Homo sapiens: one gene and its partner. The protein of the gene in region 2 interacts with the protein of the main gene of each other region in a pairwise test. Each region holds a gene or a part of one and is shown on either strand. Other genes may lie near its edges.

Region 1 (2,992 bases), on a different chromosome or scaffold from region 2:
TCTGGGCCTGCTAAGTGCCCTGGAGAACGTGGCTGTGCTCTATCTGATCCTGTCCTCCCACCAACTCCGCCGGAAGCCCTCATACCTGTTCATTGGCAGCTTGGCTGGGGCTGACTTCCTGGCCAGTGTGGTCTTTGCATGCAGCTTTGTGAATTTCCATGTTTTCCATGGTGTGGATTCCAAGGCTGTCTTCCTGCTGAAGATTGGCAGCGTGACTATGACCTTCACAGCCTCTGTGGGTAGCCTCCTGCTGACCGCCATTGACCGATACCTCTGCCTGCGCTATCCACCTTCCTACAAAGCTCTGCTCACCCGTGGAAGGGCACTGGTGACCCTGGGCATCATGTGGGTCCTCTCAGCACTAGTCTCCTACCTGCCCCTCATGGGATGGACTTGCTGTCCCAGGCCCTGCTCTGAGCTTTTCCCACTGATCCCCAATGACTACCTGCTGAGCTGGCTCCTGTTCATCGCCTTCCTCTTTTCCGGAATCATCTACACCTATGGGCATGTTCTCTGGAAGGCCCATCAGCATGTGGCCAGCTTGTCTGGCCACCAGGACAGGCAGGTGCCAGGAATGGCCCGAATGAGGCTGGATGTGAGGTTGGCCAAGACCCTAGGGCTAGTGTTGGCTGTGCTCCTCATCTGTTGGTTCCCAGTGCTGGCCCTCATGGCCCACAGCCTGGCCACTACGCTCAGTGACCAGGTCAAGAAGGCCTTTGCTTTCTGCTCCATGCTGTGCCTCATCAACTCCATGGTCAACCCTGTCATCTATGCTCTACGGAGTGGAGAGATCCGCTCCTCTGCCCATCACTGCCTGGCTCACTGGAAGAAGTGTGTGAGGGGCCTTGGGTCAGAGGCAAAAGAAGAAGCCCCGAGATCCTCAGTCACCGAGACAGAGGCTGATGGGAAAATCACTCCGTGGCCAGATTCCAGAGATCTAGACCTCTCTGATTGCTGATGAGGCCTCTTCCCAATTTAAACAACTCAAGTCAGAAATCAGTTCACTCCCTGGAAGAGAGAGAGGGGTCTTGGCACTCTCTTCTTACTTAAACCAGTCCCAGACACCTAGACACGGACCCCTTTTTGCTGATGAGTGTTGGGACTGACTCCTGGAAGACAGCCTGGCCTTGCCCACCTGCACACAGTCTGTTGGATAGGTAGGGCCACGAGGAGTAGCCAGGTAGGCGAGACACAAAAGGCCTGGGACAGGGTCAGTACAAGTCAGGTCAGGCTTCATGCCTGCATCCTCCAGAGACCACAGGAGCCAAAGCGAGCCTCCAGGCCCAGCAATGAGGGACTTGGGAGAAATCTGAGAAGAATGGGTTGTTCTCTTGGGAAGTCAGGGTATCAGATGGGATGGACATCCAGGTCTTCTCTCTGCCTAATTGTCAAGGCCTCCTTGGCTCTGGAGCTATGAAAGGCCCCACTTTCAAGTCACCCTTGCCACTGAGGACCGAGGACTATGCTATGATGAGGATTAAGGTGTTGACTTGCCTCTTTCAGAGATAAATGACAAGCCTTCAGTTTGGGGCATCCTGTTGTTTGGGCGAGGACCCTCTCTGATATTCTGATAATCCCCACCTGTAACCTCAGGTCCCTGGAAATACAGAGGAGGCTGGGATCGCCTGAGACACAAAAATCTTTGGAGAATTTTCTTGACCCTCTGAAGTCCTTCCAGCAGCAGTCCTGGTGGTGCTGCTGGAAGCAGGCAATGTCCTAGTCTAACCTAACTCGAAGAAAAAAAGGAAGATATTCACAAAGATTGTATAAATCTCCAAACTGTTCCCCTATCTGCCCCCAATTCAGCTCCCTTGCCTCCTCCACACCCCTATTACATATAATAAGCAGAGCAAGTGGGAGGAGGGGAAATGTCCTTCCTATATGCCAGGTATGGGGCTGACATTTCAGTCTATTGACCCCAGCTAGAATATAGCTCCATGATTTTAAAGATCTCAGGGGCCAGGCATGGTAGCTCATGCCTGTAATCCCAGCACTTTGGGAGGCCAAGGCAGGTGGATCACCTGAGGTCAGGAGTTTGAGACCAGCCTGACCAATATGGTGAAACCCTGTCTCTACTAAAAATACAAAAATTAGCAGGGCATGGTGGCAGGCACCTGTAGTCCCAGCTACTCGGGAGGCTGAGACAGGAGAATTGCTTGAACCCTGGAGGCAGAGGTTGCAGTGAGCCGAGATTGCACCACTGCACTCCAGCCTGGGTGACAGAGCAAGACTGTCTCAAAAAAATAAAATAAAATAGATCCCAGGGTACTCATTTTTCATATGAGGGAGGCTGGGTTCCTCCCAGAGGAGCCTAAAACAGCCAACAAGAGAAATTGTTGGCGGCAGGAAGATTGCAGAGGAATTCTAATGCAATTATTTGGGACCTCAAATGGAATAAAATGAAAGATATTGGTTAAACATGTCTTCGTTTAATACTTTCAAGACAAAATATCCACTAGCTATTCACTTATTCATTCATCTCATAAACATGAGCCAGGCTCTGTGCAGGGTCCTGAGTACCCAGCCATAAATGAGACTGTGCCCCTGTCTCATGGGGCTTACAGTCTATATCCTGCTTGCAAGACAGCCAATAAGTCAATAAAGAAGATAATTACAGGCAGTACAACAAAGGAAATATGCAGGTTCATGTCATGTAATAGGGATTAATTGAGTTAACTCAATAAACGGTAGGATAGACCTACCATGTGCCGGCTCACTTTTATTGAGCCTTTACTATGTGCCAGGCAGGGGGCTAAGTGTTTTTAAATGCCTTATTTCACTTCATGTTTCCCAACAACCTAATAAGAAGGTCTTAGTTATCTTCATTTTACAGATGTGGCAACCTCAAAGATGCAAAGTCACTTGTCTAAGGTCACCCTGCTAAGTACCAGAGCTGAGGTCTCCAACCTAGTTCTGTTTGACTTCAAAGCCTGCCCTCTTAACCACTAACCTTTTGTCCTAGTTCAGTCAAATTCTGCTTGATTATTGCTCA
Region 2 (3,818 bases):
CACCCCCCAATCCCCAACTGGAACGTTATCCCCAAAATGCAAAACACCATGTTCTTTCACTGCTGATCCTCAGTGCTTAGAATACAGCCAGGCGCAGAGTAGGTGCTGAATAAATATTGCTCACAATCTTACAGCCTTCCAGCTCACCATGAGGTAGATACTAATATCAGTCCCATTTTCCACATGAGCACACTGAGGCTTAGAGAAGAGTTTCCCAATTAGCAGGTGGCCAAACCAGGATTGGAACTCAGCCCTGCCTAAGTAGTTAACCCATCTCCTAAATAGCCTGAATTCTAATCCCTCCACCTGCCTTCCAAGGAGCACAAATTGAGGACATGAAAAAGAATGTTTTTTTGTGGTTCTCAGTTCTGTTTCCAGAAAGACCTAAAAAAAAATAGTAGCTGTAATTTATCAAGTACCTACTATATGCCAAACACCGCATTTGCCATTCCCACTATGGCCCTAAGAAGGTGATATATGAAGGAGGCGGCTGCAGCCCTATTTTGTAAGGAGAAAAGCGGTCCCCAGGGAGGTTTGTGAGTTGCCTAAAGGCACATGTGGAGAAGCTGAGAGTTAGGCCTGAGTTAGACTTGACAGCACCTGATACACTTAACCTTGAAAGCAGCCCAGCTGGCTCCAGAGAAACTCCCAGTTCACCTCACCTCTTTCGCACTGGCTGCTAACTGAGCATGGCACGTGGGCCTCCTTTCCCTTCCTCCACTGCACTGGGCATGTTCCTGCCTCTGGCCTGCTGCTTCCTGTTACCTTTGCTCTAATCTGTGCTCATCTATCTTCAGGGCCCTCCCACACTTCTCTCCTCCCTCTTCAGTTGCTCTGCCCCCTTCTCTCCTCCCTCTTCCACTGCTCTGCCCGCTTCTCCCTCTTCCATTGCTCTGCCTCAACTCCAGTCAGGAGCCTCTTTGCCATTCCGGAAACACACCAAGCAAGCAAAGGCCAGCCTCAGGGCCTTCGCACCTACTGTTCCTGCTGCCTAGAGTGCCTCCCACAGAGGTCTGCACGGCTTTGTCCCTCAGCTCCTCGGGGTCTTTGTTCAAGTGTCACCTTCCCTGACCACCCGATTTAAGAGGCAAAGCCCCCACTTCCTTCTCCCACCCCTGCTTTATTTTCCTCCATAGCAGTTAGCACCATTAGCCACGCTACACATTTTATTCATTCGTTCCAGCTCCCTCACTAGATGGTGAGTGCCACAAGGGCAAGGATCCGTGTTTTCTGGTTTTTTTTTTTTTTTTTTTTTTTTTGAGACAGTCTCTGTCACCTAGGCTGGAGTGCAGTGGTGCGATTTCAGCTTACTGCAACCTCCACCTCCCAGGTTCAAGCAATTCTCTTGCCTCAGCCTCCCGAGTAGCTGGGATTACAGGTGCCTGCCACCAAGCCCAATTAATTTTTTTTCGTATTTTTAGTAGAGATGGGGTTTCACCATGTTGGCCAGGCTGGTCTCCAACTCCTGACCTCAAGTGATCCACCCGCCTTGGCCTCCCAAAGTGCTGGGATTCCAGGCATGAGCCACTGCGCCCAGCTGATTCATGCTATTTTGTTTGCTGCAGGAGCCTACGCCCAAAGCACCATGGCATGTGGTAGGTGCTCAATAAATACGGGATGATGGGTGGCTGGAATCACAACGCCATGAAGTCGAGGGAGAGGGCTTTGTCAGTCTCATTTACTGTGTCCTCAGCACCTAGAATAGTGCCTGGCACACAGTAGGTGCTCAATAAATGCATGACCTGAGAGACTGTTCCCAGAGGGCAAGGACTGTGTGACCTCCTGCTGTGATCTCTGCCCTCCTGACCTCGAAGATGGTGCAGTGGCTGGGGTGGGGAAAGCCCATTCCACGCCACTGGTGGCCGCACCTGTGGTGATGCAGAAGTAGGTCTCGTGGGGTGAGACGTGGTGGATGCGATGGTGTTTACGTGGCAGGATGACATGCCAGTCCTGCAGGAGGGTGACCCAGCGTGGCAGCCCAAAGTACGTGTGCGACCACTTGTGGATCTGGTTGGTGAAGGTGCCGAAGATGATCAGGCAGAAGACGAAGCACTCCCAGGGGTATAGCTGCTCCAGGGCTTCTGCAGGTTGGGGAGAGGGGGGGCCGGCACAGCTGTCACTCGGGACGGGGAACCCACCCCAAATGGCCCTCACCACCTGCTCCTGGGCGGCTCCTGAGCTGGGCAAGCACCCAGGATTCTCTTCCACCCCCTGCAGGGCCGCAGGCAAGCTCAGGTGCTGCCCTGGGCTTCAGGCTTTCCTCCTGCTCAGGAAGCAGGCGTAATGGTGTAATAGGATAATGGCATAAGCATGGCAATGGCTGGGAATGTAGACCGGAGTCAGCTGGAGCTGGGTTCCGATCTCTGCCGACATTTCTTGGCAGTATGGGCTGGATCGGTGACTCTGCCTCTAAGAAGCTTAATTTCCCCATCAGGAAAATGGGAATGATGCCTTCACCCAGGTTCCCTAGAAGCGGAGCCTGAAACAGGTTCTTGTGCATGTGATTTATCAAGGGAGCCTCTTCAGGAAAAAACCTCGAAGGGAGGGAGGGAAGCAAGACACGGCAGGGGAAGAGCAGAGCAAAGATGGGGTGGGTGGCGTCCTGTCTCAGTCTGTTCCTGCAAGGAGCTCTGAGGTGTTAACGGCTCTTTAGAATTAGACCCACTCAGAGGCAAAGGGACTAGCGTCGGAGGCGTTTCAGTCACTGGCTCCAGCCTTATCCCAAGGAGACAGGTGGGACCTCCCCTCCATCCCTGGAGAAGCTGGGAGCTGTCAGCAGCCACCACTCACAGAAGCAGGGGCTGGGTGCACCCCCAGGGAAGGGGATGGGCAGGGTGCCATAGCACCCACTACACTACACGTCCTCACCACCTCTACCCACCGGAGGCTGCCTGAAGAACAAATGGGTGTTAAGGTGCTGGAACAGGACCGGGCCCCAACCTACCTCCACCTGACAGATAAGGCAACTGAGGCTCAGAGTGGTGAAATCACTTACTTTGGGACCAGTCCCTCTAAAAATAGGCAGGCCCTGTTTTCACAGCCTAGACATTTTCCACTAGGCCACGGTAGCAAAACCCCAGAAGCCCTGCCAGGCAGGTAACACAAATGAACAAGGTGGGTTGGGTGCAGGGAAGCAAGGAATAGTGGGGACGGTGGTAAACTGGAAAGACGCGTCCTGTCAAAGGCAGTGGCTGCAGCTCAGCTCCCACCCAGTGAGGCCAGGTGGGAACATGGACCCAGGGGGGCCAGAGCAGATTGTGCAAGAGAAGCTGGAAACCTCCATCTTCATGTCAGGTTTCCTGATTTTACATGAAGACAATGAATGAAAACTCTTTTAAAATACCATAAGGAGCCAAACACATAAGCCCCAGAAGGCTCCTGGGGGTCGGCCTCTGCCCCCAAGGCCCCCTCCCAGCCCACCACTAGCTGGGTGTCTCACCAGGGCTGTGGGTGCGGAACTTGTAGGCCATGTTTAGCAGCGGCAGCAGTGTCACCAGGCAGTTGTCCCCGTTGGTCTCGATGAAGTCGTGCCGTGTGATAGCTGTCGGGTCAATGTGGTGCTCCCGGAAGGGTCGGATGAAAGCCTGGAGTTGAGGGGGACACAGCCCCAGCAGTCAGCCTAAGGTGGTCAGCTGCTCTCCACAGCCCCCTAAACACATTCACCCTGGGCTCACCTCCCGCCTTTGATCCTAAGTTTCCTCCACCCGGGATGCTTGAACATTCCCACCTGGCCCACTGCCAGACACAGACCCCATCCAGCCTTTGGGGAGATGAGCCGAAATGACCCTGGAAGGGCTTTGGGTTGGCACTGTCTGCCT

What was found.
Region 1: the proteins of PEDS1-UBE2V1 (region 2) and CNR2 interact in a two-hybrid assay, tested with the Homo sapiens proteins (one large-scale study listed by BioGRID).

Annotation. Positions count from the first base shown.
Region 1 is NC_000001.11:23,872,501-23,875,492, reverse strand, and holds part of CNR2 (cannabinoid receptor 2), read left to right. Parts: coding exon 1-958; 3' UTR 959-2,992. UniProt on the Homo sapiens protein: Heterotrimeric G protein-coupled receptor for endocannabinoid 2-arachidonoylglycerol mediating inhibition of adenylate cyclase. May function in inflammatory response, nociceptive transmission and bone homeostasis.
Region 2 is NC_000020.11:50,126,107-50,129,924, forward strand, and holds part of PEDS1-UBE2V1 (TMEM189-UBE2V1 fusion protein), read right to left. Parts: intron 3,585-3,818; coding exon 3,440-3,584; intron 2,082-3,439; coding exon 1,869-2,081; intron 1-1,868. Other genes in the region: PEDS1 (plasmanylethanolamine desaturase 1), read right to left, coding at 1,869-2,081, 3,440-3,584.